Regions from separate parts of the Homo sapiens genome. Here region 1 is linked to region 2. Evidence: fine-mapped expression QTL. A gene starts in region 2. The other region holds a variant in brackets. All regions are shown on one strand. Distances are from middle to middle. Region 1 overlaps SLC28A1 (solute carrier family 28 member 1). Region 2 holds the start of SLC28A1 (solute carrier family 28 member 1).

The links. PIP is the estimated chance that this variant, and not a neighbour inherited with it, causes the effect. A credible set is the group of variants that fine-mapping cannot tell apart.
Region 1: its variant is the best candidate, but not a certain one, in a credible set for the expression of SLC28A1 in nasal epithelium (TOPMed, PIP 0.86).

The regions. Positions count from the first base shown.
Region 1 is chr15:84,905,761-84,911,132 of GRCh38, forward strand. It overlaps SLC28A1 (solute carrier family 28 member 1), which reads left to right. Exons shown (of 19, transcript NM_004213.5): 9 at 2,958-3,035. Among named protein-coding and RNA genes, the nearest start is that of SLC28A1, 24 kb to the left of the region's middle. The variant G/A (reference allele first, on the strand shown) is at 3,318.
Region 2 is chr15:84,882,264-84,887,635 of GRCh38, forward strand. SLC28A1 (solute carrier family 28 member 1) reads left to right here and starts at 2,399. Exons shown (of 19, transcript NM_004213.5): 1 at 2,399-2,488; 2 at 4,409-4,524. RefSeq lists enhancers at 1,478-1,978, 1,979-2,479.

The sequences.
Region 1 (5,372 bases), 23 kb after region 2:
GACCTGGAGGGTGGGGTGGACTGGGGCCCCAGACCAGGTGGGCAGCTGGGGACCAGGCAGTGCAGCTGCCACTTCCCTCATGCCTGGTACTGAGGTCCCAATAGAGTAGTCTTTCCAGAGGCTGGGTCTGCAATCAGCAGTAACTTGGAAATTGTAATAGTTAAAAGTGCTAAAAAAAAAAACCCAAATCTGCAAATGATTTACTTCTGTGTGTGTGTGTTTAAAAATAACGTTTATTGAAGTTATACATTTTTGTTCTTTTTTTTTTTTTTCTTTCAAGAAGGAGTCTCGCTTTGTCACCCAGGCTGGAGTGCAGTGGTGCAATCTTGGCTTGCTGCAACCTCCACCTCCCTGGTTCAAGCAATTCTCCTGCCTCAGCCTGCCCAGTAGCTGGGATTACAGGCTCCCACCACCATGCCTGGCTAATGTTTATATTTTTAGTACAGACAGGGTTTCACCATGTTGGCCAGGCTGGTCTCGAACTCCTGACCTCAGACGATTCGCTTGCCTCGGCCTCCCAAAGTGCTGGGATTACAGGTGTAAGCCACCACACCTGGGCCCATTTTGTTTTGTTTTGAGACAGTCTTGCTTTGACATCCAGGCTGAGTGCAGTGGTGTGGATATGGCTCACTGCAGCGTTGACATCCTGGGCTCAAGTGATCCTCCCACCTCAGCCTCCCCAGTATTGAGTAGCTGGGACTACAGGTGTAAGCCACCATGCCAAGCTAATTAAAACATGGTTTGTTTGTTTGTTTGTTTGTTTGTTTGTTTCTTTCTTTCTTTCTTTCTTTCTTTCTTTCTTTCTCTTTCTTTCTTCCTTCCTTCCTTCCTTCCTTCCTTCCTTCCTTCCTTCCTTCCTTCCTTCCCTCCTTCCTTTCTTCCTTCCTTCCTTTCTTTTTTTTTTTTAGGTACAGGGTCTCCCTATGTTGCCCAGGCTGGTCTCAAACTCCTGGGCTCAAGTGATCTCACCTTGAGCCACGGTGCCCAGCCAATTCTGTTTTTTATTTTGGTAAAATATACATAACATAAAATCAACCATTTTAACCCCTTTAAGTATCATTAAATTCATGCACACTTGTTTTGCAACTATCATGATTTACTTTTGTCAAAAGAAAATTAGAACAAATTTAGTTTAAAGATCTTAATTGGCTTTTATTTGTGATTTTAGAATTAGGCAACACCTCATTCTATAAAAATAGAGTGGGTGTTCCGATGAGTTGAGTGGAGGAGGTTGGCTTTATAGACAGAGAAAGGCTGAAGAAAGCAGAAACAGAAAATAAATAGCAGATTGGTTGTTTCAAGGTCACTTTCCTTATAAAGGTCACAGCTGAGGGGACTGCCTGTCATGCTGCATTTGGGGATTTGGCTATCTGTCTCATTCTCCTGATTTTTTGGAAGGTCAGAAGACAGCTTAGTTTTGACTTGTGATGTGGAACTTTATAGCATGAGTGATTCCATTGTGGTTTGGTCTGTTGGGAGTAGTGCAGGAGCTCAGTCTAAACTAATGGTCTCCTTTATTTAACACTTAGAATTTTTTTTAAATCTATTTATTTGTTTATTTATTTTGAAACCAGGTTATGAGACTAGCTAATTTTTCTATTTTTGGTAGAGATGGGGTTTTACCATGTTGCCAAGGCTGGTCTTGAAGTCCTGGGCTCAAGTAATCTGCCCGCCTTGGCCTCCCAAAGTGCTGGGATTATAGGCATAAGCCACCATGCTGGCCTTTTTTTAATTTTAGTTTAGTTTAGTTTAGTTTAGTTTTGAGACAGGATTTCACTTCCATCACTCAGGCTGGAGTGCAGTGGCGTGATCTTAGCTCATTGCAGCCTCGACCTCCTGGAATCAAGGGAACTTCCCACCTCAGCCTCCCAAGTAGCTGGGACTCTAGGCATGAGCCACTACACCTGGCTAATTTTTGTATTTTTACCACTTTAAAAAATATAAATCATCAAGGACATAGGTTAAATATGTTAATCTACTCACCTCCCTCTCACCAGCTTGCAGTTCCCTGTGCTCTGTGCAGGGTGGAGCATGAGAACCCTGCCGGTCCAGGAATGTGCACACCTGCTGGCCTCACTGACAGTAACTGTACAGGGTGTGGAGGAAAAGACAGAGAGTTTCTTTTCTGGTCATGTCCCCATTTTATAGATGGGAACACTGAGGCCTGAACAAGAGAAATGACTTGCTGCCCCTGCAGTCACATTGCAAGTTCAGGATATAACACAGGTCTCCTGTAGAAGCATGGCTGGGCTCAGACTCCAAGGCCACAAGCCCGGGATGGGGACAAGATGAGGGGAGACTTTGCCGTTGGTTGTCAGGGGCCTGAGCGGCACAAGAGGCACTGCCTTCTTCACATGTCTCATGGTTACTTCTTCTGTTATCTCTTCTTTATTGTCCTAATAACTCCCAGAGCATTTCTTTTTTTTTTTTTTTTTTTTTTTGAGACAGAGTCTCGCTCTGTTGCCCAGGCTGCAGTGCAGTGGCGCAATCTTGGCTCACTGCAACCTCTGCCTCCCGGGTTCAAGCGATTCTCCTGCCTCAGCCTCCCAAGTAGCTGGGATTACAGGTGCCCACCACCATGCTCAGGTAATTTTTGTATTTTTAGCAGATATGGGGTTTCACCATGTTTGCCAAGCTGGTTTCGAACTCCTGACCTCAGGTGATCCGCCTGCCTCAGCCTCCCAAAGTGCTGAGATTACAGGTGTGAGCCACTGCACCCAGCCTGCAGAGCATATCTTTAAAATTGACCAAAAAGGTGTCTCTTTGGCAAATATGCTTAGGAGTGAGTGCCCGTGACAGCAGCTTTAACGCACCTTGCCAGGTGGTGCCCCCCCCCGGATAAGGGCCTGGGGGGACTACGTCCCTGGGCCAACCCGCCTGTCTCTGGCCGCTGCTTCCTCCCTCCTCCCTTCCCAGCCTCACTGCCTGTTTTTGTTTGTTTTGCTTTTTTCTTTCAGATCTTCCTGAGCTACACGAAGGCTGGCTCCAGCTTCGTGTTTGGGGAGGCGCTGGTCAAGGATGTCTTTGCCTTTCAGGTCAGCTTGACTCAGGGTCCCAGAGGCCTTTAGCAGCCACCGCCCAGCGACTCCAGCTAGAGGGGAGTCTGGGCATGGTGGGGGCCCAGGTGGAGGGGAGGAGTCCTGTGGGCAGAGGTCGCCGTACTGGGAAGTTAGTGAACCTTAAGCCTGGGGCCCGGGAGGAGCCCAGCAATGTTCACCTCATGAGATGTTTTTGCTATATTTTGTAAAATTTGCAAAAGTAAGATATTTCTGTATGTTTTTTTTTTTAGAGATGAACCTCCAAATTATAGAATTACT[G/A]AGTAGCTGAGGACAAGAAGTGGGGGTAGGGGTCATGGGGACAGCTCCTGCTGAGACCTTAGTCCCTGATGTGCTGCAGAGACTCTGGGCCCAGAAAGAGCAGTTTCCAGGAAGGCTTAGGCTCAAATGATCCTCTCAGGCGCTCCTCCTTCAGGGCCCCTCACAGGCCACCTCTGCCAGGAAGCCAGCCCTTACTAGTCCCGCTGCAATAGCTCCCTCCTTTGTGACCTCCTCAACCTACGATCCCACTTTCCCTCCCTCCCAGCCTCCATCCATCCTTCCTTTCTTTCTTCCAACAAAAATCTATTGTACATTTACTGCACTGCAAAATATTATAGGGGAAATGGAGATAAAGGCACTGTTCTGTTTCAAAGACCTTATTGTCTAATGGTGGAGCCCCAACCCTAATTTAAAAACAGGTCAGCCTGTGCGGAGGATGAGGATGCTACTGGTGGGACTGCTTCACTGTTCTGGGTGGAGCTGTGGTTGTATTCTTTTTTCCCTAGTTCATTGTTTAAGCACCGAAATGGCTTGTTTAGTAAGAACTCTAGTGTAGCCCTCCTCTGCCTGTCTTACACTCCAACTGTCTAAGACCAGCTTGCTCTAGGCTTAAGCTCCCTTGCCAGGCAGAAGAGAGAGACCTGGGCCCCACTCACCCAGTAGTTGGCCCCAGTTTTCTGCCACTGATGCGTGGCACTGAGAGGGAAATCAGGGCTGCCCACTCTGGTACATCCGGGACCGCCATCACCATGGAGCTGCTATGCAAGACCCCATGTGCAGGTTCCAGAGGTTTCTTCTGTTTTTCATTATGCTGGCCACTGTTCCCAGAGTCTCCCCACCCTGCTGGGGGTCTTGGACCCAGGAGACTTTTGGCCCAAGCCATGGACTTAGCTATGGACTTCTGGGCTGGCGTTGAGCCAGATCATGAGTTCAGACCCTCCTGCCTACCCCTGACCCTGACCCTGACCTCTGGTGAGCTCCCCTTGGAGCCTTAGCATCTCTTGTGCCAGCAGACTCCTAGGGAATGTCCAGTCTAACATCGTCAGCCCTAGGAGGAAAGGGAGGGGCCCAGGTTCCTATCTTCTCTGAAGTCTTCTTGCCCCCTGGGCAAATTTGCCCATCATGTTTTCTGAGACCAGTTCTGCATAGGGAGAATATTGGGAGGGGGAGCCTATGTCAGCCCCGCAAAGGCCCCTAATACCATATTCCTTTAGGGTAACGAGCAGCTGCTCCCTTACCTTTGCATAACCAATGCGGGGGTACCCGAAGTTTCAGAAAAGACAAGTAAGGTCTGCTTCAGGGTGACCTCTGGCGTCCACCCAGGCAGGGAGGCTCCCGCAGCTTCTTACACTTTAAAACACACACACTCAGCTGGGCGCGGTGGCTCATGCCTGTAATCCTAGCACTTTGGGAGGCTGAGGCAGGCGGATCACTTGAGGTTGGGAGTTTGAGACCAGCCTGACCAACATGGAGAAACCCCATCTCTACTAAAAATACAAAATTAGCCAAGTGTGGTGGTGCATGCCTGTAATCCCAGCTACTTGGGAGGCTGAGGCAGGAGAATCGCTTGAACCCAGGAGGCAGAGGTTGCAGTGAGCTGAGATCATGCCATTGCACTCCAGCCTGGGCAACAAGAGCGAAACTGCATCTCAACAAAACAAAACAAAACAAAACAAAAACACACACACCCGACACTCTGCAGTTCAACCTCCCCAGGCAGCTGCGTTCAAGTGCAGTAACGGAGGGGCCTGAGGAGTGCGTATAAGGAGAGATTCTTCTAATAAGAGACCGTGAGGGAGACTCCTTGAGGAGGCAGCATTTGACATGGAGTTTAGGACAGAAGAGATTTGGACAGACTGAGCTAGGCAGGAAGAGGAAATGGCATGGGCAAAGCATGGAGGTGAGAATGTGCTGGCGTGTCCACAGTGCAGGGCAGAGTTCAGTGGATAGGCAGGTAAGCTGTTTCCCAAAGGGAAATTAAAGCCTCGTTAGCCAAAAAGCAGGGGAAGAGGTGCCCGGCGGGCCACGCAGCTGCTGTCCGCCAGAGCGCCTTCC
Region 2 (5,372 bases):
TTTGCAGAACATCTTGATCTGGATCAAACTGAAAAGGAACTATCTCAATTTCTCACTATATGAAAAGCTGATATGAGGCTGGGCACAGTGGCTCACACTTGTAATCCCAGCACTTTGGGAGACCGGGGCAGGAGGATCACTTGAGCCCAGGAGTTCTAGACCTGGGCAACATGGTAAGACCCTGTCTCTACAAAATAGGTAAATAAATAAATATTAGAACAACCAGGATGAAATTTTTTAAAAAAGAAAAAAAAATTAGCTGGCGTATGGTGCACATCTGTAGTCCCAACTACTCTGGAGGCTGAGGTGGGAGGATTGGTGGGAGGTCGAGGCTGTAGTGAGCTGAGATTGCGCCACTGCACGCCAGCCAGGGAGACAGAGTGAGACCCTGTCTCAAAAAAATAAATGAATAAATAAAATGCTAATATGAGCTGGAGAGGCAAGAGGAATAGAAGGTAAAAAGAACAACAAGGGAAATACACTTTTTAAGTACAATCAATTAAATATTAAATATTTGGGAACAGTGAGCTCTGAACTGCTTGGGTAAAATTCGCCCTGCCTGGTGGCCTTAAGCACTCCTGCAGGTGGGACCCGGCATCCTAATTCTACCAGGCCTCTTGTTGCTGCCGTAGATGAGCCCCAGACTCGGCCTTCCATTTTGTATTGGATGATGACCACATGTGCCCAGATGTTCTCAGTGAGTAGAGTGGGTCAAGGAGTAAACTATATCGGAAACCGTTGGATAATCATGCCAAGCAGGCTGGGGGCTTCCAGCCTTTGGGGTACTGGAATGCTTTCTTCCCCTGGGACCAGCTGAACTAGCTCTGTAGTTGCCGGGAGAGCAGTGTGCTCTAACACTTGGGCTAGTCCGTTCCCACAGGAAAACTAGAAGAGTCACAAGCAAAGAGTATAAAAGCCCAAGATATTTCTTTAGTCTTTGTATTTAGCTCTATGTCATCAATTTTTTTTTTTACAGGGTCTCACTCCTGTCGCCCAGGCTGGAGTGCAGTGGTGTGATTATGGTTCACTGCAGCCTTGACTTCCCAGGCTTAAATGATCCTCCCACCTCAGCCTCCTGAGTAGCTGGGATTACAGGTGCACGCCACCACACCTGTCTAATTTTTTCTATTTTTTGTAGAGACAGGGTCTCCCTGTGTTGCCCAGGCTGGTCTTGAAGTCCTGGGCTCAAGCGATCTACCTGCCTTGGCCTCCCAAAGTGCTAGGATTATTGCTACTTTCCAATATTTCTACTACAGACTACGGGAAGTCCATTTTTCAATGCCAAATGCAGAAGAAAAAGTTGTATGGATGCCCTTTCTGCCAATCATCCCAGGTTTAGGAGAGAAGAATGATGAGGTCATGTTCATGGAACTTGACGAGTGATAAGCCTCTTTATTTGTCCAGTGCTTGGATACACGAATCGATGCAATGAAAGAGACCTCGCCTGTGAAGAGCTAAGAAATGAGTGTGGGCAGAATCATGAGAAGAAAATAAAGAGATTGCTGAGCAACTCTTCTGACAGTTCTTGTGCTTTTTGAATGTTTCACTCACTACTTATAAAATAACCTATTATGTCAGAGCCTGGCGAGAAGGGATCCTCTCCAACTCTTTGACTAATAATTCCCTAAAACAGGAGGTGGCCTGCAGAAGAACTAAAACCAGAAAAGTTAGGTGGTTGCCTCTGAGGAATGGGATAGAGTTGGAGGGGTGGAGCAGCCCCTTTACTGTCAACCCTTCTGAGCTCTGCTGGATGGTGAGGGAAATTATCTATGTATATTTATGTGGTCCTCTCCCCACTCTGCCCTGGCCTGGCTCAGCTCTAGGTCTCACTCAGCGGGCGTCTGCGGGTGTGCCGGGCCTCAGAGGCTGTCTCCTTAGGAAACAGGCCACCAAGAAGCCCAAGGACATGCTGAGGTCCCACAGCTGGAGGGGCACAGCCGGGACACCTGAGGTCCTCCAGCTGTTGGTCTTTCCCTGGGGTCTCCACCCCAATCTATCCAGCCTCCCAACTCCCCAGCCTGTGGCTTTTTGCCACATTCCACCTGAAAAGACCGCTTGGCTTCTGGGGTCTGGGATCCCTGCTGGCCATGCCTCCTTGAGAGGAGGAGCAGGGGAGAAGCCCGGAGTCTCCTGGCCTGGAGGAGGGGAGCAGTGTGTCAGGACACCCCGGATGGGACCTGTGACAGCAATGACACCTGCCAGCCTGATGCCGCTTGACTCCCTGCCAGGTACTTCCTAAGCAGGAGCACGCTGACTCCTCATGTGCTCTATTACCCACCACCAGATGAGGCAGCAAGTTAACTTTGGCAGTCAGGAGTGGAGACCTTTGGGCTCCAAGCTCAAGGTCCACCCCAAGACACACAGCCCATTAAATCCTTGTTGTAGAGATTAGGGCCCACAACGATGTGAAGGTTATAAGCTGCACTGCATGGTTGCTGCTGGATGTGTTGTGTTCCTGGCTTCCCTCTGGATGCTGACAGAAACAAGGGTGAGAGAAAAGGACAGTAGGAGAGGAGGGAAGGCGGGACTGAAGAAAGGAGGGGAAGGGGGTAGCACAGGGCAAAGTGGAAAAGCAGGTAGCGTCCTTTTTTTCTTCACTAGGGCTTGGCGAAGACCCCTTCGAGGACAGCTCCAGGCCCATCCCTGTGGTGGCCACCCATGGAGACAGTAGTGCTGCTCAGAGGCATTTAGTTTTTGTTTCTTTTCTGTTTTTGAGGTAGAGTCTCGCTCTGTTGCCGAGGCTGGAGTGCAGTGGTGTGATCTCTGCTCACTGCAGCCTCCACCTCTCGGGTTCAAGCAATTCTCCTGCCTCAGCCTCCCGAGTAGCTGGGACTACAGGCACCTGCCACCATGCCTGGCTAATTTTTGTATTTTTAGTAGAGACGGGGTTTCACCATGTTGGCCAGGCTGGTCTCGAACTCCTGGCTTCAAGTGATCTGCCCACCTTGGCCTCCCAAAGTGCTGGGAGTGCAGGCATGAGCCACCGTGCCCCCCCTCTTTTTTTTTTTTAAAGGTAGAGTCTTGCTCTGTGGCTAGTTTTCAATCAAGGTAACACATGGGCTCTCAACAGTGTGCGGAACTCTGCTAGAAAAATCAAATTATGAGAACACTGTTACTGTGTGATCCCCTATTGGAAAATGAATAACATAAAATAACATACATTTAGGAAAAAAAAAGTGGAGAAAAGGCCAGGCGCGGTGGCTCATGCCTGTAATCCCAGCACTTTGGGAGGCCAAGGTGGGTGGACCACCTGAGGTTGGAAGTTCGAGACCAGCCTGACCAACATGGAGAAACCCCATCTCTACTAAAAATACAAAATTAGCCAGGTGTGGTGGCGCATGCCTGTAATCACAGCTACTTGGGAGGCTGAGGCAGGAGAATCGCTTGAACTTGGGAGGCGGAGGTTGCAGTGAACCGAGCTCGCACCACTGTACTCCAGCCTGGGCAACAAGAGTGAAACTCCGTCTCAAAAAAAAAAAAAAAAAGGAGGAAAATGCCACACAAACTCAATAGTGGTCATCCCTGAGGGCTCAGATTCCGGGGACTTTAACTTCCCTCATTCTGTATATTTCTCTAATGTTTAAATGTTTAATGATACACTTGTAATGCTTTGGTAATTCAAATGACAGATGAAGAAAAAATGTTTTCAAAAAGAGGGGGTGTCCATCCACCATCCTCTCCAAACTTCCAAAACAACCAGGAGGTGCCGGTACTAGCAAGTATTTATGCATCATAGAGGATTTTGTCCTGAGCGCGTACCATTAATTATTAAAGAGATGTTGTGAATCCCGTCAGATGAGTTTAATGTTTAGTGTGAGGACTGGAAAACTAAAGCATTCAGCCCTTCGCTTTGCACACCGTTGGCTTAGGTATTCATTTAACAAAGATGAAATGAAGGGGAAATGGTGTGATTTGGTTTTGTTTTCTTGACAGACCTGAAACACTTTTACTATTTCTCACAGCTACACTGCTTTCCTCATTTTCCAGCACAGGAAAATTGGTTGCTGTTATAATAAATCCCCATCTAGTGAGAAAGGGAGATAGAGAAAGATGCAAAATGAAAGATAAAATGCAAAAAGCTAACAGCCTGGCTGGGGAAAGGAGGCCATGGGAAGGAAGGAGGGGGAGGGAAATAATCACATAGGTGGCTTCCTGGAAGAAGCGGCCCTAATAGGCCTGGAAGAGGTCAGTTTGGGAACTGGGGAGAGGGCAGAGGAGGGCATCTCTGATGGAGAAGCAGCAGCCAGTGGGCAGGAGCTGCAGGGAGCCAGGTTGCAAGTGGGCCTGCTTCCTGTATCCCTGAGACCGTGTTGGGGTCCCCACCCTGGCTGTGGCCCTGGCCTCTGGGGAGGCGCTGGGCAGAACTGGGTGGCAGGCCCAACCTACTCCGACCCTGGACTCTGCCCAGGAATTTCTGCTGAAGTGACAAGGCAAGCCAGAGCCAAAGCAGGTTGGACCCAGCTTGTCCCCACAGAGACGTGTGCTTCCCTCTCTCTCTGAGAGCGACCTGTTAACCGCAAATACGTGAGTAGAAACAGGGCCCCGCTTCTGTGTGCGCTGCTGTGCGTCTGTGTGTGAGCCAGGGCATTCCCAGGCTCTGCCTGTGTGTGTGCACGCACATGCACGGGTCTCTGAGTATGTCAGCCTAACTGGGCTGGCATTTGGATGGAGTAGGGCACCACCCAAGGGGAGAAAAAGGAGCGGGAACAAGAGAAGGGAGAGAGGAGGTGTTAGTTACCACTCTTATTTACAGATGAGCTTAAGCCTACGAACTGAGCTTCAGCAAAAAATGAACTATATTGATTCTTGCAATGGAAAGTCCAGGAGTAGGATTGGTTTCAGGTATAGTTGGATCCAGGAACTGGAATGATGCCTTTAAGGATGTTGCACCTCCATCTTTCAGAGATGGAAAAGTAGAATACACTGAAGATCTCACTTAATGGTAATAGTTTTAACCAGTTGTAGGGAGTGATGAAAGCTAGGTCCTCTCTTCAGAAAAATGCCTGTATCAGATACATATGCAGGCTGTATATAATTCTTTACTTTCCTTCCCTATGAAGTGGGCAGAATTTGCTGTTTCTGCCTGGAACTCCCAGAGTTCACAAGGACTTGCCTCTTACAGGTTCAGATGTGGGTGCAGGCTGGGGTGGTGGCGCACGCCTGTAATCCCAACACTTTGGGAGGCTGAGGTGGGAGGACTGCTTGAGCCCAGGAGTTGGAGGCCAGCCTGTGCAACACAGGGAGACCCAGTCTCTAGAAAAAGGAAGAGGTACCTCCTCCATGTGCTGAGAAGTCAAGGTTGCAGTCCCAGTCACAAGGAGGGGTGAGCTCTGGGATGGCATAGGTGGCCCCCAGGCAGGGCTCTGGCTGTG